Linked DNA regions of Homo sapiens: all the other regions are linked to region 1. The links come from fine-mapping of genetic effects on gene expression. A gene starts in region 1. Each other region holds a variant in brackets. All regions are shown on one strand. Distances are from middle to middle.

Evidence for each region.
Region 2: its variant is fine-mapped to the expression of KIAA0319L in whole blood (TOPMed, PIP above 0.99).
Region 3: its variant is fine-mapped to the expression of KIAA0319L in whole blood (TOPMed, PIP above 0.99).

What each region holds. Positions count from the first base shown.
Region 1 is chr1:35,553,207-35,561,194 of GRCh38, reverse strand. KIAA0319L (KIAA0319 like) reads left to right here and starts at 3,792. Exons shown (of 21, transcript NM_024874.5): 1 at 3,792-3,988; 2 at 6,676-6,845. The coding sequence starts at 6,704. NCDN (neurochondrin) reads right to left here and starts at 3,396. Exons shown (of 7, transcript NM_014284.3): 1 at 2,972-3,396; 2 at 1,948-2,088; 3 at 1-869. The coding sequence starts at 3,004. RefSeq lists enhancers at 364-998, 1,455-2,180, 3,559-3,618, 2,908-3,634, 3,635-4,362 and 2 more and silencers at 2,568-2,777, 3,849-3,988, 3,999-4,098.
Region 2 is chr1:35,485,099-35,493,086 of GRCh38, reverse strand. The region is part of intron 3 of KIAA0319L (KIAA0319 like); the gene reads left to right. Among named protein-coding and RNA genes, the nearest start is that of KIAA0319L, 68 kb to the left of the region's middle. The variant A/G (reference allele first, on the strand shown) is at 4,535.
Region 3 is chr1:35,433,949-35,441,936 of GRCh38, reverse strand. It overlaps KIAA0319L (KIAA0319 like), which reads left to right. Exons shown (of 21, transcript NM_024874.5): 20 at 799-890; 21 at 6,856-7,988. The coding sequence ends at 7,043. Among named protein-coding and RNA genes, the nearest start is that of ZMYM4-AS1, 72 kb to the right of the region's middle. The variant T/G (reference allele first, on the strand shown) is at 3,608.

The sequences.
Region 1 (7,988 bases):
CATTCCTGGATCCCCAACTCCATGAGGGCATAGCAGGCGGTCACCACATCCTCTTTCACCTCCGTGCCCGTCTCCTCCAGTGCCAGCCGCACTTCCACGCACGCCAGATTCACCAGCAGGGCCAGGAACTTGCTCCCGGAGCTGCCCGCCGGGATCCAGTCGGAGCCGCAGGCGTGTGCCAGGCGGGCTGCCAGCTTCAGTGCAGGGTTGCGCTGCCAGGAGCTCAGCTTGCTTCCCAGGATGCGTGCCAGCCCGGCCTGCAGATCCCGGTAGCATTCAGGGGGCACGGTTGTCGGGGGCAAAAAGAGGGGCAGCAGCTGGCAGAGCTCAAACTTGCTGGCATCCTCAGCTTTCTGGAAATCCTCACTGAGGCCCCGCAACACGGCCAGCAGGTCGGGCTCCGCCTCCTTCCAGCACTGTGTCTCGGCAGCAGCCAGCAGCCCCACCAGGAGTGCCAGGGCCTGGTCAAAGCCATAGCCGTGCCCCAGGTATGCCTGGCATAGGGCAGACACGGTGCCACCAGCAATGAGGTGCCGAGGCCCTCTGGGTGTGCCTGCTACAGCCGTCAGGCACTGGTAGGTGTCATCAATCATGGAGCGGCGGGCAGCATCGTCCGGGTCCCCCCGGGCTGTGAGGAAGGTGCTAAGAATGGGAATCTTGTTCAGGACTTGGGGATGGGCGGCCAGTTCAGGGTCACTGCAGAAGCAGGCCAGCAGGGCCACACCCAAAGCCCGCAGAACATGGTCAGGGCAGCCATCCGGCGCCTCCTTGGTGGTCAGGAGACGATTGGGGAAGGTGAAGCCGACAGCATCGAAGATCCGCCGCCGAGTTTTGGCATCTATGTCACCTGCTTTGACTGCCTTGGTCACCTATAGGGGGTATGTGCTATCATCAGGATGAAAGGAAGAAGTGGGAAAGACTGTCCCTCTCCTGCATCCTGGGGCACTGAGGACTAGCAAGATGAGGTTATGCAACAGGACTCATCTGAGGTCATTTCATCCAGCTCCTTTTTTCTCCTTAGAGGCAGATAAATGTGACCTCTGGGATCCCTCTCATCTGTGACTGTCCCATGGAAGTGAGGTCTAGTCTTCCTCAACCATTCATTTGAGCATTTCAACACCTGGCCAGTTGAGAAGTTCTTCCTGATGTCTAAATGCCCACAACCTGGGATGGAAGGGGCTTAGAACTCAATGTTTTAAGATCTCCCAAGGATTTAAAGTCCTTCCTTAATTGCTCCCTCCAGAGAAGTCCCTGATCCATTTCTGCCACCTTCTCAGGGGAAATGGCTCCTGTGTCTCGCCGCTCCGCCTGTCAAAACATTTCCCCTTACATTTCACCTAAACACCTCCTCTGCTGCAGTGTGAGCCCTTGACTCCAGAGCCTTCTCCTTGTTGCCATGGCAAACAAGCAGCGGCTGTACTCCCTCCTCCCTTCACCCCCCACACACAACCCCCCCTTCCTAGCACTGCAGCTTCTGCTCTGCTGTCCCCAGCTTGGGTTCCTCCAAAAAGGCTAAGCCCCAAACTAGCTCCCATTCCTTAACCTACCTACTGCCATCCTGGCCTTCCCCTAGGACCCCTCCCCAGCCACTTCCAGCCCTGCTACTCTCTCCAGGCCCAGAACAACCATCCCCAGCCCTCAAGTACTCTGCACTAGTTACTACCTGCTGCTGTTACCCTATGAGTCAGCTTCCATCTGCTCTGGGACGCCCCAGAAAACAGACCCAGGCAGCCCCTAGTGCCACAGCCTTATTCAGTCCCATTCTCCTCTTTGCCCCCATTCTCAGGGGGAGCAAAAAAGAGCACAAAGGTAGGGGTCTTGGGCCTTCGTTGGTGCCTCCAGGGTTGCTAGCACTACGTACATATCCTTGGGGACTCACTGACCCCATTCCTTGGGGGCCCAACCACCCAGCCCTTCCCACCTCCCAATTTTCAGCCAGTTCCTTACTAGCAGCAGGGCTGCAAACTGCTCGCTGTCATTCTTGGCCTCACGGAGGGCTCCCAGGTAGCGCTCCAGGGTGGGGTTTCGGCCCTCTGCCTGGTTCAGAGCTGGCTCGCAATCCGAGGCCATGATGCTCGCCTTGCCCAACTGTGAACACAAGAGGGACTGAGCATCCCTCTGCAGAGGAGGGACGGGGGTGGGGTGGGGGTGAGAGTGGAGGATGGAGGGAGGGAGGGATTAGCACAGAGGGAGGGGAGGAGAGAATCTGGAGGGGTGGACTCCTCAGGACTGACCTCCCCCCAGAAGCCCCTTTAAGGGGCTGGATCTGCAAATCCTTAGGGATAAAGAAGGGACCCTGGTCCAAGGTCACCTCCAGAAAGCGGGAAAGAAGGACCATGCATGCTGCTGCTCAGCCGGACAGCTCTCCTCACCAGTCTCCTGGGGGTGGGCGGGAGCTGGCCCCACTGCTCAGCTGTCCCCCTGGCACCGGAGGCTGGGTTTTATCTCCCTCCACAGGGACACAGAGGGAGTGAGTGGTGAGGACAGACAGGGAGAAATGGAGACATACATGGGTGAAGTTCGATTATCCGGACTCAGGCTGACATGGGAGAAAAGGACACCCCAGGCTTCCTTTCCCCTCCCTTCTTCAGAGGCAGAGATACGCTTCAGAAGTGAGAATACAAGACGCTCAACAGGGAAGGCTTGGAGGCCCCTTTGGGGACCCCACCCCTCCAGCCAGGGCTCTCAGTCGCCCCCGCAGGCTCCTTGCCTCCTCTCCTTTCCCTCCCTCGGGTAGAGGCTGCAGCAGCAGCAGCAGCGGCGGCGGCAGCAGCAGAATTAACCCCTTGCGCTCCCTCTTCTCGCCCTCCCCGTCCCGCTACCAGCCTGTGGATGCCGGCAGGGGCTGGAGAAGCAAGAGGGGGTCCCGGATAGTTCCCAGGACAACGGAGAATCCAAAAGCCGGATAATCGAAGCAGGGCTGCTGAGATGGGGAGATGAGAAGGGGAGGAGGGTTCCTGGCGGTCACCACCTGTCCCGCCGCAGCCAGGTCACAACACGACATTGATGAAGTCACGACAGGGCGGCGATGAGATCACACTTCACGATGGCGCGGTGATGTCACGGAGAGATCACGTCAAAATCACGACATGGGAGACAGCCCCCAAAGATGACAGGGCAAATTAAAAAAAAAAAAGATATATATTGAAAAGGGCTGTGACAAAATGGAGTCTCGACAGGGCACGATGGTGTCGCGATATGGCGCGATGGAGTCGCGATAGGGTCCCCGGGGTGTGTCGGCATCGATCAGCGCCGGCTCGGAGAGGCCCCGGCTGGGATGCAGGGGAGGGCCCGAAGGGGGCTGAGCTCACCAGGCTGCGGCCCCGAGCGGCGAAGTCTTCTCCCAGCGCGATGCTCCGGGAGCCTCGGGCCGCTGCTCACGCCGCGTTGCCCACTCCTGGCTCCAGGCTGCTGCAGCTCCACCCCCACCCCCGCACCGCTCTTGACGAATCCGCGGCTGCTTCACTCCGGGCTCTGGCCAATGGCAAGTCAGGGTGCTAAGCAGTAGGGGGTGCCGCCGTTGCCGCCATCTTGCTTGTGGGTATTGCCCGAGTCTGGGGGCTGGGGCTCGAGCGAAGGAGGCAAGGTGCAGACTGCCTCTGGAGAGCGGGCGGCGAGAGGCTGGGGGCCCAGATTCCTTCGCTTGTGCGTAGTTTTACCCGCCCAGCACTGCCCCTCCTCCCCCTTGGTCTCGCGGCCGGCATTGCCCTTCCCGGGGGAGGGGCGGGAGGGCTTGGTTAGCATGGAGAGTGTGTTTCCGGGTCGGTCCCGGGGAGGTGGGAGGAGGCGGTGTTTCCGGCCGCCGTCGCTGTCCAGGGAGGCTGAGGCGAGAGGTAGCTGTCCGGGTGGGGAGCCCGCACTACCTTCTTCCTCTTCCTCCTCCTCCTCCGGGTGAGGGGAGCGAAGGTTGGGGGTCCCCGAGCCCATGGACCAGGAGGAGGCGGAGGCCGCCGAGAGCCGGGGCCCCGCTATGTGGCCCTGAGCCCCGGTAGGTGGCCGGGGGCGGCTGGCTGCCAGGCCGAGGACCATGGGCTCAGGGGAGGGGCAAGCGGGACGGGCGATGTCAGCGGCTGCGCTGGCCGGATGTTGGGTCCGGAGGTGGCGCCCCTGGCTCGGCCAGGGCAGCCAGCTGCTTCTGTCCTTGCAGGTGCGCAGCTTGGGTCCCAGGCTGAACCCCGCTTCTCTCGGGCCTGGGCCTAGTCATGCAGCTCCCTCCATCCCCTGAGAGCCAGGCAGACAGCCGGGGTTCGGGGCGCTGCCGTCCTTCTTCCACCTTCGACCTCTGCAGCCTAGTCTTTAGTTGCTGTCTCTGATGTTTGGTCTCTCCACCGAGATAGAAAGTTGGTGCAGAATGAAGAGGGGATGGGGTTGAGCACGATGTGTCCATTATAATGTGAAACCTGCCTCATCCACGATTTTGAAAATTATGCCCCACAGAGGGTCCTGTAGTGGCTGCAGTGAGCACAAAGGTGAAATGAAGGAAGTCAAAATTGATAACCTCTGGCGGGATTCCAGGAACTCTTTGGCTTCTGGTCTCATAGTGGTTGTGTCCAACTGACAGTAGTTGCAGTTAGTGAAGAGCATTAGCTGACTCTCCTTGTGCTCTCTCCTGTGATTAACAGACTGAAAACTAGGAACAAATTGGAAAGACGACCTCCCAGAACAATCTGTTCATTTTTCCAGCTATTTGGAAAACAGTGTCTGCAAATATAAGCAAAGCTATTCATGGCAGTCTGTTCTGTAACTTTCCCAAATATCTGAGACTTTTTAAAAAAGAGCTTTATTCTCGATTACTCATACCAACTGAATAGATTGTTTCAGACGTGCTCCATCGTTGTTCAAACATATCTTATCGCTGTGTACATAAATGGAGTTCCACGTATGTAGTTGACAGACTGAACTGTGATACATCCCCCATCAACCTGAAGTATTAAGTAAACATTACCCCCTGCTCTGTCTGAACAGCTGCTGCAACAGAGAGTGCTTTTATTTTGGGTGTACTTGTAACGCCCTAAATGCCAGAACTATTGTGAGCTTCTCTAGATTTTCATTTGTCAAGTATTGTGGGGGTGTGTGTTCTCTCCCTGGGTTGTTACCCTTTGATTCAGTAACAAACTATTCGGATCTTGGTGATGTGTTGTTGTTCTTGCGTTTGGTCAGCAAGCCTTTAACTGGACCCTAGCAGTGATTTGTGCCCTTAGGCAATTATAGGTTTCAGAGGAATGACTGGTTAGGAGTTCAAATGAAATTAACTCTGCCTTTCTCTTAGACGCAAGATTTATTAGACATGGCACTTCTAATCAGCTTGTTAGTCCAGTGGTGTTTATTACTCCATTTTTCAAAAGCTATTCATTTCTTTTCTGCTTCTCCCACCCACCTGTCAGGCTATTGATGACAGCTGTTGAGTCACCTTGAGTTTTAAATCCTTTTGTGGTAGGCAGAAATGTGTTGGGTAAGATTCATACACACCCATACATGCACACATGCATACTCACTCGTTCCCTCTTGGGAGGCTAGAGAAATTGCTGGATGTACTTTCTAACTTAGGCTCCATTTCATAATCTCTTGAACATGTCTCTGGCCCACACACCTCCTTTCTGCCCCCTGCTCCCTGAAATACAACTACAAAACAACTAGAAATAGGAATGGATGGAAGTGAATGAGAACGATGAAGTCCTTCAGATGCATGTGGTTCTGCAAAAGCCTTTTCTTGGGTGGGCTGCACCTTAGTTTTGCAGCTGTGTGTATGTCTGTGGCTGTTTCTTGGTATTAGTCAGTATTGGTATCCAGCCCAGGCAATGCTGATCTCCCTGTATGCTGGCCGTGGATAGGAGTTAGGGGTTGGCAGCCTGTGTCGTTTGCTGGATGTAGATGACAGGTACATAGTTGGACAGAAGTTTTTGAATTGCTTCTTCAGAACTCAGTCAACCCTCATAATGTTGCCAATATTTACGTACTAATTTAGACAATATAGCAAAGTTTTATATGAGGGGAGAAATTTATGGTAAATGAGTTTTTCTGCTGGAAGAGACCTAAATAATCCAGCCCCTAGATTCTGGAGTAGCCAGCATAGTGCCTGACGTAAGTATCTGTTGAATGCAGGGATTGGGGTGGGTAGCATTGAGGTGTAAATTGAATAGATTTTCATGATAATAGTGGTGGGCGGAGACAGTAGCAGACTGGAGAGTGCATGCCCTGCCTAAAGACATTTGCATTCAGAAATTTAAAAAATACTGGGCCAGACATAACCCTCAGGTTACTTTACCTCTGAGGGTGCAACCTCTTCTCCTCAAAAGTAAGAAAGTGTGTTTGGTCAAAGTCACAAAGCTGTTAGTAGCAGAACTGCAACTAAAACTCAGAGATCTTCTTGTCTGCGGGCTGGTACTCTTTCCATTCTACCACATAGGTGATTTACTGTTAGATTAAAAAAAAAAAAAGGAATATAAAGTTTCAGTTTTCAGTGGATTCATTTGATATCCCTTGCTGTGTTGTTATTCTGATAATTATAGGCTACCTCAAAGCCCAGGTTTAAAATTTATAGGCAGGGTTGAGCCGTTAAAGACAAACTTGAAATTTTTCTTTCCCCTAATCTGTCATATTTTCTAGCATTCCACATTTCCAGGAATTAATTATTAATTACTCGGCATGTAATTTCTTCTCTTTCTGTCCTTCTAGTGTACTGGTTCTGCCTGTCTGGAGGGCCATGGAGAAGAGGCTGGGAGTCAAGCCAAATCCTGCTTCCTGGATTTTATCAGGATATTATTGGCAGACATCTGCGAAGTGGTTGAGAAGCCTGTACCTGTTTTATACTTGCTTTTGCTTCAGCGTTCTGTGGTTGTCAACAGGTACTATTTTCTTTATAGATTTAAGATTTTTTTTTTTAGAAAAGGGCATTTTATGTGAGTCCCTCAGTTCATTTTAAGGACTATTAGGAGGCAGAAAAAACAATCTGCTAATTGACAGAAATGGTCATCCTTTTGGTGACTGAGGTCTGTTGGGTTTATTTATTTGTTTTGTTTTGGAACCAGAGTTTAAATTGGATTCTTTTTCATAAGGGAGAATTGGCACAACCGTTTTAAGACTTGATAAAAGTCAACTGGGTATTTCCACTTAATGACTATAAAACCTTGAGCAAATTACCTATTATCTTTGAGGAAGGGTTATTATCTACCTCATGGTTTGATTTGAGGGATAGTATAATTAAAGCATGTAGCACAGCACTCAGCATGGGTGCTTAGTCTTGCTATTTGCCCAGGCTGGTCTTGAGCTTCCTTTCCTTTCCTAAAGGAATCTACACTTATGGGAAAAATGCGTTCCTTACTTTTTCCATAGAGAGGGGCTATGTTGATAGATTTTTTAGACTATGCTTTCCTCCTAGAGATTATTTCACCAGGGTAAAGCCTCTTGCCAGGAATCAGTGCCAAGAAGGCTAAATTTCAAAGGAGAATGCCCTTTCTTTCTTTCTTTCTTTCTTTCTTTCTTTCAAGTTCTTTTGTTGATATTGTGCTTTCATAGTATGAGTGTGAGAAAACAGCAATATGAGAAAGATTTCTGTGTATGCTGCCATTCTGGCCAGTGACCAAAAACCTTCTGCTGTAGAGACCACCATCTGGGATAACTAATCAGCCTTTTTCCCTTATAATTACAAAGATTTCTGTTGCTTTCCTAAAGGAATTGGTGGTCATGATTTTGAGACCCTAGTAATTATTGTATTTAGCAATTTCAGTAACATCAGCTTTGGGGTTTTTGTTGTCTTGCAGTGATGGTTGATGATTGCATAATTATAGCAGTGGAAGTTGTACTTGACAGAAAGCTGATCTACATGGTTTTTTTTTTTTTTTACCCCAGATGATGCTTTGCTGGGACAGCTGACTATTTCAGGTCAACATTTTATATAAGATCATTAGAATTAAATAAGTAATTGATTTAGCACCATCAGAATAGGGAAAAATCACTTCTTTAAAAAAAAGAGATGGGGTCTTGTCACC
Region 2 (7,988 bases), 68 kb after region 1:
CTCCAACCTGGATGCCTCTTATTTCTTTTTCTTGCCTTATTGCCCTGGCTAGAACTTCCACTACAATGTTTTTTATATATTTTTACTTTTTGTGGAGATGAGCTCTTGCTTTGTTGTCCAGGCTGGTGTGGAACTCCTGGCTTCAAGCAATCTTCCTGCCTTAGCCTCCCAGTGTGCTGGGATTACAGATGTGAGCCGCCATGCCAGGCCTCCAATACAGTGTTGAATCCAAGTGGCGAAAGTCTACATGTTAGCTGTAGGTTTTTTGAAAGCAACAAGTCTGTAAGTCAGCTATAAGTCTGATGTTAGCTGTAGGTTTTTTGAAGATACCTTTCATCAGCTGTAGGGAATTTTTCTATTCCTAGTTTGATGTGAGTTTTTATCAGGAATAATTGATGGATTTTGTCAAATGCTTTTTCTGCATCTATTGAGATGATTTTTTTTGTTTTTAGTATGTTAATATGGTGAATAATATGATTGATTTCAAATGTTAAACCAACCTTACATTCCTGGAGTAAACCCCGCTTGGTCATGATATTATTATTATTATTATTAATTAATTTATTATTTTTTGAGACAGAGTGTTGCTCTGTCACCCAGGCTGGAATGCAGTGGCTTGATCTTGGCTCACTGCAACCTCCACCTCCTGGGTTCAAGCGATTCTCCTGCCTCAGCCTCCTGAGTAGCTGGGACTACAGGCGCATGCCACCACACCCAGCTAATTTTTATATTTTTAGTAGAGACGGGGTTTCACCATATTGGTCAGGCTGGTCTTGAACTCCTGACCTTGTGATCCACCTGCCTCAGCTTCCCAAAGTGCTGGGATTACAGACGTGAGCCTCCGCGCCCAGCTTGGTCATGATATTATTTTGATGTATTTTTATATTTGATTTATCAAATTTTTGTCATGAATTTTTACATCTGTTTATTGGCTGGCCTCATAGAATGAGTTGAGGAGTTTTTCCTTTTCTTCAGTTTTCTGGAGGGTTTGTGTAGAATTGGTATTATTTATTCCTTAAATGTTAAATATAATTCTCCAGTGAACCATCTGTACTTCGAATTTTCTTTGTGAAAAGTTTTAAACTAGAAATTCAATTTATGTGATAGATACATTGCTATGTAGGCTGTCTCTTTCTTCTTGAGTGAGTTTTGGCAGATTGTGTCTTTCAAGGAATTTATGCATTTCATGCCATTAGTCAAATTTATTTGCATAAAGTTCATTATAGTCTTTTACTGTCCTTTTAACATCTGTAGAACCTTTAGTTACATTGTCTCTCTCATTCTTCATATTGATCATTTGTGTCTTCTTGTCTCTTGCTCTGGCTCTGGCTCTTGCTGTCTCATTTCTCCTGATTAGACTAGTTAATGTTTCTCAAAGAACCATGTTTGGTTTTATTCGTTTTTCTCTATTGTTTTTCTGTTTTCTATTTTATTGATTTCTGCGCTAATCCTTTTTTTAAAATATTACATTTAATATTTTCCCTGTTTAAACAAATCCAAGTTGACAGGTTTATTTTTTTGCTTTCAGTACTTTCGAGATACTGTGTCAATGTCTTCTAGCTTGCATTGTTTCAGTTGAGATATCTGCTCTAGTTTTTATCTTTGTTCCACATATATCATGTTTCTTTTTTCTCTGGCTGCTTATATAATTTTCTCCTTACCACTGTTTTAAGCGATTTGATTATGTTATTCTATGGCGTAATTTTATGTTTCATGTGCTTGGGGCTTGTTGAACTTTAATCTGGATTAGAATGTGGGTTTATAGTTTTCTTCAAATTTGGGAAATTATTGACAATTATTCAAATATTTTTCTGTCCCTCTCCCTTTGGGACCAATTGAATTTATTTCACAGTTTGCTGATCCCCATTCGTTTATTTTCAGTCTTTTTTCGTCTCTGTGTTTCATTTTGAGTAGTTTCTATTGAAATTCTTTAAGGTTACTAATCTTTTCTTCTGCATTGTTTAATCTGCCATTAAATTCCTACAGTATTGCATTAGTCTGTTCTCACATTGCTATAAAGAACTATGTGAGACTGGGTAATTGATGAAGAAAAGAGGTTTAATTGACTCACAGTTCTGCAGACTGTACAGGAAGCATGGCTGGGAAGCCTCAGGAAACTTACAATCATGGTGGAAGGCAAAGGGGAAGCAGCACAATCTTCACATGCAGGAAAGAGAGAGAGTCAAGTGGGAAGTGCCACACACTTTTAAACCATCAGATCTCATGAGAACTCACTCACTATCATGAGAACAGGAAGGGGAAATCCACCTTCATGATCCAGTCACCTCCTACTATGTCCCTTCCCCAACATTGGAAATTACAATTCAACATGAGATTTGGGTGGGGACACAGAGCCAAAACATATCAAGTGTATTTTCTTTAATATCAAACATTGTAATATTTATATTAAAAGTTTGATATGAGGTCTTTTTTATGTCTTATAACCTTTCCTATAACTTCTTAAACATAGAAATATAATCATAATACTTATTTTAATATCCCTATCTACCAGTTCTGTCATCTCTGTTATTTCTGGATCAGTTTTAATTGATTTACATTTTTTTTCTCATTATAGTATTTATTTTCCAGCTTCTTTGCATGTCTGGTTATTTCAGATTAAATGCTAGACATTGTAAATTTTACCTACTGGGGTGTTGGATATTTTTGTATCACTATGAATATTCTTGAGCTTTGTTCTGGACTGTGGTTAAATTATTTGCAAACAGTGATACTTTTGAGTCTTGCTTTTAAGCTTTGTCATGTGAGTCCGGAGCTGCATTTAGTCTAGGGTTAATTTTTCTATCCTACTAAAGTAGGACTTTTATTAGTACTTTAACTGATGCCCTATGAATTACAAAGTTTTCCATTCTAGCTTTGTGGAATAGGTACTATTTCTTAGCCGTCTAAACTTGAGTACTTTTCTCTGTAATCAAGAGAACTACAGGGCAGCCTAGGCAACATGGCAAAACCTCATCTCTGTAAAAAGTACAAAAAGCTACTTGGGGGGCTGAGGTAGGAGGATTGCTTCAGCCTGGGAGGTCGAGGCTGCAGTGAGCCAAGATCGCGTCATGGCACTCCAGCCTGGGTGATAGAGTGAGACCCTGTCTCAGAAACAAACAAAAGCCAGGCATGGTGGCTCATGCCTGTAATCCAGCAGTTTGGGAGGCTGAGGCGGGCAGATCACTTAAAGTCAGGAGTTCGAGACCAACCTGGCCAACATGGTGAAACCCTTTCTCTACTCAAAATACAAAAATTAGCCGGGCACAGTGGCAGGCGCCTGTAATCTCAGCTATTTGGGAGGCTGAGGCAGGAGAATCGCTTGAACCTGGGAGGCAGAGGTTACAGTGAGTGGAGATTGCACCACTGCACCCCAGCCTGGGTGACAGAGTGAGACTCCATCTCAAAAAAAAAAAAAACCCAAAGAAACAAAACAAAGAATACAGGTTAGTTTTTCCCTGACCCTCTGTAGTTTCTCCATATACATCTGATTATCAGTATTCCCTTGAGTACTTAAGGGGGTCTCCTTCAAATTTTCAGAGTTCTGTCTCTGTATAGCACTCTTCTTTCCCAGACTTCCAGTTCAGCTCTTCAACTCAGAAAGACTGCTGGTCTGTGCTTGGATTTCTTCTTCCTGTGCCATGGCTCAAAAACATTTTCTAGACAGTAAGCTGGGGCAATCATAGGGTTGATCTTACTTGTTTTTCATTTCTTAGGGATCACTGTTTTTTATCACCTGATGTCTGGTGTCTTGAACGCCATTGTTTAATATATTTGGTCTGGTTTTTAAATTTTTTTCAGAAGGATAAATCTTCTTGCTGTTACTTCTTCTTGACTGGAACAGAAAGTCCACCATGTTTTTTTTTGTTTTTGTTTTGTTTTTTTACCTTGTGGCATTCACCTACCTAACTACTACTTAGTCTTCCTAGGCTTTACTTCTTTTTGAAGCCTTCTCTGATATTTACTTCCCAAGTTTGGACCCAGATGCTCTCCTAAATATTTGCATAATACTCAACTCTATCATTAAGTTTTCAGTCTCAGAACTTGATGCTCATTGTTCAAACTTGATACTTGCAAATATGTCCTTGATCTTGTCTCCTTGCATCTTTAGCTACCATTCGTTTGTCTCTCTTCCTTTTTATCTAGAAATATCAAAGGTAGTCTGCACTTGCTGTCTCTTCTTTATTCACTTACATCTAATCCTCAGCCATGTGGAATTTGGTTTCCACTGAAGCTACTCTTGCCAGGGTCACCAGTGACTTCACAGTTGCTGATTGCAGTGTATTCTTTTCAGTCTTTATTTGATTGGCCCCATCTGCATTATTTCATACTGGTTGCAATTGTCCCTTCTTTCTTTGGGGACCACACATTCCTGGTCCTTTTCCTTCTTCCTGATGATTCCTTCTTAGTCAATTTTGTTGGTCCTTTTATCAGCTTACAGCCTTTGTATTCCTAAATGTTCTATTCTTTGATTACTATTTCTTTTATTTACATGTTCTTCCTGTCGTAGTTCATCCACTCCCATGGCTTTAGGAGC[A/G]TGATTCCAAATCTTAGTTTCTGTTTCAATTTCCCAGAGGTATTTTAGCTTCAATTTGTCTAAAACATAACTTCCTGTAATTTCCTTAAAGTTGCTCTTCTGTAGTCTATTTCGTTTTTGATACTACTGTAGTCAGTCCCTCACTCAGGCTAGAAACATGGGTGTCATCTCAGACTCTTCCCCAAACCCCAGATCTATTACAGCTCCATAAATATTAGATTCTTAATATTTTAAAATCCATCCCACAGGAGGAGTTTCCAGTAATGGTGGCAGAGTGAAGTAGTCTCTGAAACCTTCCCACAGATAATATTAGAAAATCTGTAAACAAATGTATTAAAAGATACTGGAAAGGTTCCAAAAGCAGATAGAAGCTAGAGGAGCGCTTACTTTTGAAAAATGGCAACTGGGAGTGAAAAGAATTGTGAATTTGCAGCTTAAAAAAATTTTTTCCTGAGGGCATTCAACAACTCCCACAGCAGAGGAAAGTGGCAGTGGAAAACTCCAGCCTTACTTTCTTATGGTGGCAAAAACAGAGTTCATGATAGAAAAAGCATCTGAAAATTTAGCAGGAGGGCTTGAAAGTGAGAAAACCACAGAAGAGGGTGACCCCCATAACCTGACTGTGAACTCTGCTAAAATCCCTGGATGTACCTCTAAACTACACCTGCATGGGCAGACTCCATGAGGCCTGCTGAAAAAGCAGGCAGAGATTAGGGAGGCAGAGATTAGAGTTCTGTCTTTGAAAGACAGAATCTACACAAGGTGAACTTCGTAAGTTTGCTGCTTTTTAAAATTGAATGCATTCTCCAACCATGGGGAACCAGGTGGCAGATATATGAAGTCTTATGGACTTGAGGTGTCAGTGGACGTAATCTTAAGGCTGAAAAGTTAGGGAGGAATCCCCAGAAACAAAGACAGTACAATGAGAACAGGCCCCAAATCTGAGTAAAATCTCTGGCCAAATTCTTGGTCAATTATCAGTTACACAGGCAGACCTGTAGTGGCCAGGCTGGGCGTGGTGCCTTACGCCAGCACTTTGGGAGGCCAAGGCAGGTGGATCACTTGAGGCCAGGAGTTAGAGACCAGCCTGGCCAACATGGCGAAACCCCGTCTCTACTAAAAATACAAAAATTAGCTCGGTGTGGTGGTGCATGCCTTTAATTCCAGCTACTAGGGAGGCTGAGGCACGAGAATCACTTGAAGCCAGGAGGCAGAGGTTGCAGTGAGCTGAGAAGATCACACTGTTGTACTCCAGCCTGAGCAACAGAGCAAGACTGTCTTAAAAAAAAAAAAAAGTTGTGAGAACTACACAGAGATATCAGTTGTTGAACACTGTAAGGAGCAAAGTCTACAGTTCAGTCCAGGGAGGTTATTTGTCTACTAGGAAAACCTCCCCCAGTAATCCCAAGGAAAATATAGTAGAATCCAGAGTCACTACATGTATCAGAATGTCCAACGTTAAACCAAAAATTACCAGACATGCACAGGAACAGGAAAGGGTGATCCATACGCAGGGAAAAAAAGGCAGTCAATAGAAGGTGGCTCCAAGTTGACTCAGATGTTGGAGATAGTAGTCAGACTTCAAAGTAGCTATCATATGTATGTTCAGATAATTAAAGGAAAATGTTTGTTTTGTTTTTGTTTTTTTGGGTCTCATTCTGTTGCCCAGGCTGGAGTGCAGTAGTGCTATCTTGGCTTACTGCAGCCTCAAACTCGTGGGCTCAAGCGATCCTGCCAACCCAGCTTCCTATGTAGCTAGGCCTACAGGGGTGTGCCACCACTCCCAGCTAATTATAATTTTTTTTTTTTTTTTTTGTAGAAATGGGGTCTCGCTATGTTGTGCAGGCTGATCTTGAACTTCTGGCCTTGAGCAATCCTCCCACCTTGGCCTCCCAGTATGCTAGGATTACAGGTGTGAGCTACTGTATCGGGCCAGAAAATAGTTTCAATGAGTAAACAGATGAAGAATTTCAGAAAAGAAATGTTAAAAATGGGAAAATAGAAACAAGAGGGCTTACAAAATGGCAGCAAGAAGGGATCTGTAGTTTTCGTGTAAAAAACAAGTATAAAACTGGGCAAAATTGTTAAAACCAAATATTTTTAACATATCTAGAAATAAAATAGAAGCAGAAACAAATTGAGAAAAACTTATTCTTTTTTTTTTTTTTTTTTTTTTCTTGAGACAGGGTCTTACTCTGTCATCCAGGTTGGTGTGATCATGGCTCACTGCAGCCTTGACTTCCCTGGCATGAGCCATCCTCCCACCTCAGCCTCCCAAGTAGCTGGGATTACAAGTGCGCACCACCACGTCCAGCTAACTTTTTATATTTTTTGTAGACACGGGGTCTCACTATGTTGCCTAGGTTCTTGAAAAACTCGTGGGCTCAGGTGATCCTCCTGCCTCGGCATCTCAAAGCGCTGGCTTGAGCCACCACACCCCAGCCTAAGAATTTATTCTTAAAAGGCTGGTAATACTTTGAGTAGGTACAGTGGAAGTCTGTGGTCTTCTTGGAATGTTTCCCATCTGTCCTTACCTCCATTACTCAGCTCTGGTGACAAGAATTGTAGTTTTACCAGTGTGTGGCTGAACATGAAAACTAATATCTTAAGGAGCCAGAGTGCAGTGGCACATGCCTGTAATTTCAGCTACAGGGAGGCTGAGGTAGGAGGACTGCTTGAGCCTCGGGAGTTCCAACCAGCCTGGAACTCAACATAGTGAGACCCCGTCTCAATTGAAAAGGAAAAAAAATAAATAAATAACACTAGCAAATTTTCTGCCAGAGGGGGTAGACTTAATGTGGGACAGGTGAAAACTCACAGCTTTGCCAACTAAAAGTGGCAAACTTGGTTGAGAATGAATGGAGAGAATCCACAGCTTTGCTAGCTGAAGGTTGCAGTGCCTGTTGGAGTAGATGGTGGACCTGCCAGAAACTAAATGGGAAGATCTTGAAAATAAGAGAGCCATAGAAGGGCTACGATAAGCTCTCCACATATCTCTGGCTGATAGGGAAGTTACCTGCATGTGCAGGAGGGACCCAAGGGAACCCAATAAAAAGTAAAAATTAAAGGGGACTTGAGAACTGGCTGTAACTTTGAATGCATTCCTCAGGCAATATACAGATAGATTGGCAGATGGCAAAGCTTTATGGGTTTGAGGTCTATGAGCAACCCCTGCCCAGATCATTGTCTGACTACTAAATGATGCAGGCATAGGCTGCCCTAGAAACCCAGGCTAAAATAAAAACAAGAAAAAAAAACCGAGCAGAGCATCAGTCACAACATACTATGGGAGAATTAGATTTTGCAGTTTAAGTATAGGCAAGTTATTAAAAACAATAAATAGCCCATCAGGTAAATAAAACAATCGATAGCTACTCCAGTAGATTATCTGAAGCCTCTAGTTTTCAACCAGATATTATAAGACATGCAAGGAAAAATCAGGAAGGTGTAACCC
Region 3 (7,988 bases), 120 kb after region 1:
TGTAAGGTGTGTTTTCTTTAATGCACCACACTGTAGCCTCACCAGCATAGCCCGCGAGTTTTTAATTCTGCCTTCTTTCTAGTTGGGATTCATGAGTGTGCATGTTTCCACACATGCACTTTAGGCTAGCCAGGCTCAGGCGTCCTGTGTTTTTTCATTTGAGTCTTCCTATTGAGTCTTCTAAGATGGAATGGTTACATTTATTTTATGTTTTCATTATTAATAATATTATTTCTGTGTATACTGTGTGCCATAATATTTTTATAGGTAATATCATTTTTAAGACACATAACCTTTTCCCATTTTACAGATAAAAAAACTTAGGCTCAGGAAAGGTACATCACTGTCTGAGGACCAGTTGATAGTGACAGAGCTGAGATTCAACTTTCAGTATAACCTCTTATAAAACTTAGAACTAAAGGAATTTTTAAAAATTCCCACCAGTCTAAGACAACCACCATTACCAACTTTGTTAGTGTAATGCCTGTCTCCTCCCACACCCTTCAAGCAGAGGATTTTGTTTTCTTTACGTTTTTAACCAATCTGTCCTTCATTGCCCCTGTGGGATGGTGAGTCCGTGCCAAGGTGGTCATAGCTCCCTTGCCCTTCTCCAGAATTGCTGAGGAACATTTGAGGAACAAATCACAGTTGCCACCTTTCCTGGCTGAGAAGTGAGGAGAGGACACCCCTCTCAGTAGGTGCCCCACCAAAATAGGGCCCTGCATGCACATCTGGCTCTCATCCTCATCCTCCCAGAGAACCTCTTTCCTGAGCAGGGGTGGGGGTTGTGTTTTTTAGGCAAAAAGGAAAACCCAAGAGGAAAAGCAAGTACAAGATCCTGGATGCCACGGATCAGGAAAGCCTGGAGCTGAAGCCAACCTCCCGAGCAGGTAGGGGCCCTGGGTGCCAGAGCTTCTAGGTCTGTGCACTCTCTCTGTGGAAGGCTGCTGTCACTAGCCCCTCCTGAGTGTGTCACTAACAGCCCACTGTGCTTGCAAAGCATTTTGTTCCCTTTTGCCTGATGAAGACTGAGGGTCAGATTTGCCCTGAGCTGCACTGGACAAAATGCCTCCAGGACCCACTTCGCGTGCTACTTCCGCTTGGCGGGGGTGCTGGGCCTGTTGTTTTCCTTTGCCTGGGCATTCTCCTCATGTTTCCCACCTGGAGTTCCGCTTTTCCAACTGCCCCAGGTAGTCAGGGTCAGGGACCTTGGACTTGTCTCTTACTGCTGACCAGTCTGTGCTTTATGGGCAGAGATGAGACCCAGGCCCGTGTCTGCCAGCTGACCACCTTTCAGCCAGCCTTGTTCTCCTGTCTTCCTATCTTTATCATTTGGCAAGTCCTCAGCTTCTGTCAGTGTCTTAGGGCAGATAGGAGGGCATTTCCTTGCACAAACAGTAAGATGACTTTGAGTGATGGCACTGGGAGATCAGGGCAGGTAGTAGGCCTTCCTTCCTCCGCTGGGCTGGGTCACCTGGCGAGGGTTTCACTCATCATGGATGCCATGGGACAGGTATCATTGGTTTATGAGAGCTAGACTCTATAAAGCGATTCCTAAACACTCTGCAAGTAGAACTATTTTTATATAAAGCATTTATTAAACACTTTTCATGCTTAAAGCTTTGTGTTAGGGAGAGGCTATGGGGGTATAGGGAGTCATCAGACACAGGCTGTGCTCTCAGTCTAGTGAGGGAGAAAAGACACACAGTAGCAGAAGAGAACAGGCTCACAGCAGTCTGGACTCTGCACCAAGCAGCTCGATCCACCAACACTGTCAAGGTGGAGACTGGAGGTGGTGGGGCTTGAAATGAGCCCAGGAAACCAGAGCAGTGAGGGCGGGCGGGGCATTTCACCCAGGAATATTGAGAATGAGGGCCTGGAGGTGAAATGTGCAAAACCCACCCCTCACACTGCAGCCAAGGTTTTTATCATGTTACTCTGATCATGTTTTTCACCCCCTGACATTCTTCAATGACTTACTATTTCTAGCACAAAAAGCTAGAACTTTTGGTCTGGTAGATGTGGCCTTTGTGAGCTTACATCAGTTTGCTTTTCTGGAATCTTTCTCTTTGCTGATCTCCCTCTTTTCTAAACAAGTTCTTCTGGTTCATCCAGTAATCTCTTTCTTTTTTAAAAATGTGGCGACAAGGTCTTGCTCTGTCACCCAGGCTGGAGTGCAGTGGTATAGTCATAGCTCACTGCAACCTCCAGCTCCTGAGCTCAAGTGGTCCTCCTGCTTCAGCCTCCCAAAGCAGCTGGGACTACAGGCATGCACCACCATACCCAGCCCTAGAAAGCTCTTTCTTATCCCTCCCTTAACCTCCTCAAGTTGTGCTCACCTTTCTCTCACATGCCTGGGTCGGCATTTCTCTCGCTGTCTCATGATTAGTTATGTTTGCCTGTCTCCCCACCCATCAGTGAAATCCCTGAGGGCAGGGGCTGTCTCATTCATCTGTGGATATGGAGCGGGACCACTATGTGCCAGGCCCTGTGCCAGACACTGCTTATATTGTGGTGAATCAAACGGACAGACTTCACTCTTGTGTAGCTTATGTCAGACAGACATTAAGCAAACTCACAAATACATAAAATATGCTCATAAAAGGCCTTTATGAAGAAAAACACTTAAGCTGAGACCTGGATAAGTGGGAGCTAGCCAGATAAAGCTGCAGGAAATAGCATTCCAGGCAAAGGAACAAAACTGGTGCAGACCCAGCTGCTAGAAGGAGCAGAGAGCATTTGAGGAGGTAGAAGAAGGTGACATGATGGACAGGTTCACCTTCCCACAGAGTAAGGGGTGAGTGACCCAAGGCTCAATGGATGAGCAGGGTCCCTGCTGAGGACTTCTCTTGAGTACAATGGGGAGCCACTGATAGCTTTTTAAGGGGATGAATGGTGGGATTTGGTTTACATTTATTATTATTTGAGACAGAGTCTCACTCTTATCACCCAGGCAGGAGTGCAGTGGTGCGATCAAGGCCCACTGCAGTCTTGACCTCCTGGGCTCAGGTGATCCTTCCACCTCAGCTTCCTAAGTAGCTGGGACCACAGGCATGCGCCACCATCCCCAGGTTTTTTTGTTGTTGTTGTTGTTGTTTTGTATTTTTGGTAGAGACGGGGTTTCATCATGTTGCCTAGGCTGTTCTTGAACTCCTGGGCTTAAGTGATCTGCCTGCCTTGGTCTCCTAAAGTGCTGGGATTATAGGTGTGAGCCATGGCACCCGGTCTTGGTTTATATTTTAAAAAGACAACTGTGTAGCTGGGCGTGGTGGTGGGTGCCTGTAATCCCAGCTACTCGAGAGGCCAAGGCAGGAGAATTGCTAGAACCTGGGGGTGTGAAGGTTTCAGTGAACTGAGATCACTCCAACCTGGGCAATAAAGCCAGACTCTGTCTCAAAAAAAAAAAAAAAAAAAAAAAAAAGATAACTGTGGCTGACAGATGCAGGGGTTGGAGGGGAAAGGCTAGCTGAAAGGAAGTTAGATAGAATGTCCTTGGGGTTGAGAGGCAGATAGATTCTAGATACATTTTTGAGGAAGACTTGATGAGGTTAGTGGTCTGCTGGCCAAGGCGTGTGGGAGAAGGGAGAAAGGAAGGATGGCTCCCAGC[T/G]TCAGCACTGAGCCTCTGTGGGTTGGGTGGTGGTAGTATCCCTGAGATGGGAGAGACTGGAGAAGAAATGGTGGAGATCAAGTGTTTGGTGCAAGACAGTTATGAATGGAGTTGAGGGAATGAGAATGAAAGATTGACAAGGCCCAAATTGTGAAAGTTTGACTATCAGCCTGCAGAGTTAAACATTTATCCTGGTGATGCTGGGAAGCAAAGTCTTGGATAAGCTGGTTTAGGAAAATCAGTCTGGTGACAACATATAATAATTGAAGGGGAGTGGCTACAAGTGTGGAGACCAGCAAGGAGATTTTTGGTCCAAGGAGGAGCTGACAGTGATTCACACAGCGTGGTGTCAGTGGGTTATAGCTAGGTCTGGCAAGGTCAGGGCTGACTTCCAACCGAGAGATGGAGAATGATAGTGCTGTTGACAGAATCAGAACCTCTGATGCAGTGACTGGGTAAGAGAAGATGAATTAAATGGAACTCAGCAGAAGAGTCAGACATGGAACTGTAGAAATAGGAATCTCCCATCTGCTGGTGAGGATCAGCACCACAAAGGGTCACATCCCTTATGGGGGAATGTTGAAGGACAAAAGAAGAGGCCTAGGGTTGAGGACCCCAAGAATGACCATCCAGGAGGGAGGAGGGGATTCATTAGGGGACAGCCGTCGGTGTTTGCTGCTGCAAAGGCCAAAGAATCAGAATTGATAGCACCAGAGAAGCTCCTGGCCCATCAGAGAGCTGCAGTAGAGTGGGGAGTGACAGTGGAAGTGAAAGCGCAGGTGATTTAGAAAGCGCAGTGAGGAGATGAAGGCCCTGAATATTTAAAAATCCTTTTAGAAGCTGAGCAGTGAAAGCTAGAGAAGCAGGATGGCAGGCAGAGGGCAAGGGCCTCCTCTTCCTCAGAGAAGGGCTCATGAACAGATCTGTGGGTGGCAATGTCGAATGCAGGTAGAGGAGTGGTGCGTTGGAGAGGTGCTTCCTGACTGAGGAGGAAGGAGGGAGAAGGGAAGAGAGGAGAGAAAGGGAGCATGGAGTTCAGATGCCTCTTCTGAGGCAGGAGGGGAGAAACGGGCGGTGATGGCCCGGAGAAGTGCCGCGCTGCAGAGGTGAGATTGGATGGGAGCCTGAGCTCAGCACATCGGACATCTTAGGGAGAGGGGAGAGCCATGGGGTGTTCCAGTGGCATCTAGGTGACCAAAACCAACAACGTGCGACCAGGTGAGGGCAGCAGGGCTGGTCTCTTGTGGGCAGTGTCTACCGAAGGGAGCTGGGAGAGCCCGCTCAGGTTCGGTGTGGGTCTGAGCAGGCCGGAAGCACTGGTTCTTGTTCTGGGCTCAGTGGGTTAGCAGGTCCAGCCTAGAGTAGAGTCACTAGGAGGACGAGGAGAATGAGATTCAAGACCATATGGTGTCAGGTATGGAACTGAAGAAGTTTAGCTGGAAGAAGGGTAAACTGAGTGGGTCCGTTGGGGGGAAAGAGGATGTGTGTGCGCGGGAGTCTGGACGGACAGTTTGCCAGGAGCCAGTTTAGGCTGAGGATGAACAGTAACTGAGGAAGGAGAGCAGTGCCACCTGGTAAGTGTAGGGCTGCCCCCCTCAGGAGGCCCCCTTTACATTCAGCAGCTATGGCTTTGTTTTCTCTTGTTGCTGTTGTTTTTTGTTGTTGTTTTTGTTTTCTATTGATTTTTTTTCTAAAACTTTCTATTGAAGTATATTAGGTTGAACCTAGGCTCCTGTCCTCACTGCTATAGCCAGAGGGGCTTTGGGAAGGAGGCAGCTGTGAACAGGTGGGTATTTCAAGGGGTGAGGCAGGGCCTTTGGAGGACCTGGGCCCTTGCCAGGGCCCTTTCCACTGTCCCCACCACACTGGAGATGTCCTGGCGGTCAGTGTTCTTCTGTGGCCCTGCTGCTCCGCTGCCCGAAGACTCAGTAGGAGAGGTTCAGTCAAGACCCAGAACTGTAACCCTGACACCAACGCGGGTGAGGAAGCTCCCTGCCCAAGCCCCAGAGCATGTGGCACAGGCACAGCTGTACATGGACAAGGTCCTTGGGCGCATGTGGTCCTGAATGGCAGGCGCATCAGGGTCTGGATGCGCTCAGCCTGGAGAGCTCGGGGCACTGCCACCCTTAAGTCAGGTGTGGCCAGGAAGGGCTGAATGGCTGGGAATCCTCTCAAGGCACTTTCAGTATGTGAGGGAGATCTGGATCCTTCTCCCCGGAGAAGGGAGAATGATTATTGGATGATGAGATTGTGGTGCTGGAGAGGGCTCTCCCCTCTCCCTAAGATGTCCACCCCTCACCTGACTGGTTACCTTTTTTAGAAAGGAGGGAGGTTAGCTCCTGGGCGTGGGCATTCCCAGGACCCAGAACACTGCTGAGGGGGTGCCACCTGTTGGCAGCTCCCACTCTAGTCCTGCTATCTCAGCCTGCTGTTTGTTTTCTCTGGAGTTTTTGCACCAGCCAGAGGGCAGCCATCTTTGCTGTTGGAACTCTTCTTATCAGACCACATTTCATGTCTGTGGCCGCTCGGCATCTATAGGGATAAGTAGTGAAGGGACTGCCATGGCTTGCAGAATCGCAGGTGTCTTCTTCGACCCCAGGTGCTTCATACGGTTCTTGCTTTGTGTGTTCTGTGATTTGGCTGCTTGGGACTGCTTCTGAGAGTCCCCATTTCAGTCAGGCTCTCCCAGCAGGAGAGACCTGTCCAAGTGTGCACCTACTCTGCCACCCTAGCATCCAGTGAAGCCACAGCAGACAAGAGCCCACAGAGCAAATGTCTACATGGACTGAAACTGCACACTCCTGCTGTGCCAGCACTCAGCGGCCTTGCTGACCTAGGGTGCAGCTAAAAGCTCATTCTCCAGAGCCTGAGTTCTTTGTGCTTTCCTGCCTACCATGTCATTCCACCCATAGAGGGAGGTGATAAAATATTCCAAATTTGAAAGGTAAAGAAAAGAGAATGTCACTGAGTGGCCTGAACCAAAGCTCATGGATACTGGAGATGAAGAACCAGCAGGAGACCCCAGGTGTGCTCTCATCCGTACTCTGTGACACCCCTTAGTGGACTGTTCCAACCAGTTGGGCCCGGGAGAAGGACTAGGGAAGCTTCCTTCCCATCTGCACCTCCCAGCCTGGAGAGGAGCCTGTGACTTGCCCTGTTCCTTGGCTCCTCAGGCTGGGGTAAGGTGTGGGGGTGGCTCCAGCCTTGAGGCCAGTCTCCTGATGCTGGATTCCTTGTTTTCCCTGCAGGCATCAAACAGAAAGGCCTTTTGCTAAGTAGCAGCCTGATGCACTCCGAGTCAGAGCTGGACAGCGATGATGCCATCTTTACATGGCCAGACCGAGAGAAGGGCAAACTCCTGCATGGTCAGAATGGCTCTGTACCCAACGGGCAGACCCCTCTGAAGGCCAGGAGCCCGCGGGAGGAGATCCTGTAGCCACCTGGTCTGTCTCCTCAGGGCAGGGCCCAGCACACTGCCCGGCCAGTCCTCCTACCTCCCGAGTCTGCGGGCAGCTGCTGTCCCAGCATCTGCTGGTCATTTCGCCCTGACAGTCCCAACCAGAACCCCTGGGACTTGAATCCAGAGACGTCCTCCAGGAACCCCTCAACGAAGCTGTGAATGAAGAGGTTTCCTCTTTAAACCTGTCTGGTGGGCCCCCAGATATCCTCACCTCAGGGCCTCCTTTTTTTGCAAACTCCTCCCCTCCCCCGAGGGCAGACCCAGCCAGCTGCTAAGCTCTGCAGCTCCCCAGTGGACAGTGTCATTGTGCCCAGAGTGCTGCAAGGTGAGGCCTGCTGTGCTGCCCGCACACCTGAGTGCAAAACCAAGCACTGTGGGCATGGTGTTTCCCTCTCTGGGGTAGAGTACGCCCTCTCGCTGGGCAAAGAGGAAGTGGCACCCCTCCCCTCACCACAGATGCTGAGATGGTAGCATAGAAATGATGGCCGGGCGCGGTGGCTCACGCCTGTAATCCCAGCACTTTGGGAGGCCGAGGCGGGCGGATCATGAGGTCAGGAGATCAAGACCACCCTGGCTAACACGGTGAAACCCCATCTCTACTAAAAATAAAAAAAAAAATTAGCCGGGTTTGGTGGCGTATGCCTGTAATCCCAGCTACTCGGGAGGCTGAGGCAGGAGAATTGCTTAAACCTGGGAGGTGGAGGCTGCAGTGAGCCAAGATCGTGCCACTGCACTCCAGCCTGAGTGACAGAGCAAGACTCCGTCAAAAAAAAAAAAAAAAAAAAAGAAATGATATCTGGCCCCCCCTTAACACTGGAGCCCCACTCCCTTCTCCCATCCGGCCCGAGATTAGGGAGGATTGACTGTGTCAGGGATGGCGGGTGGCCTCTCTCGCTGCCAGGGCCCTTGTCAGAGCAGCCA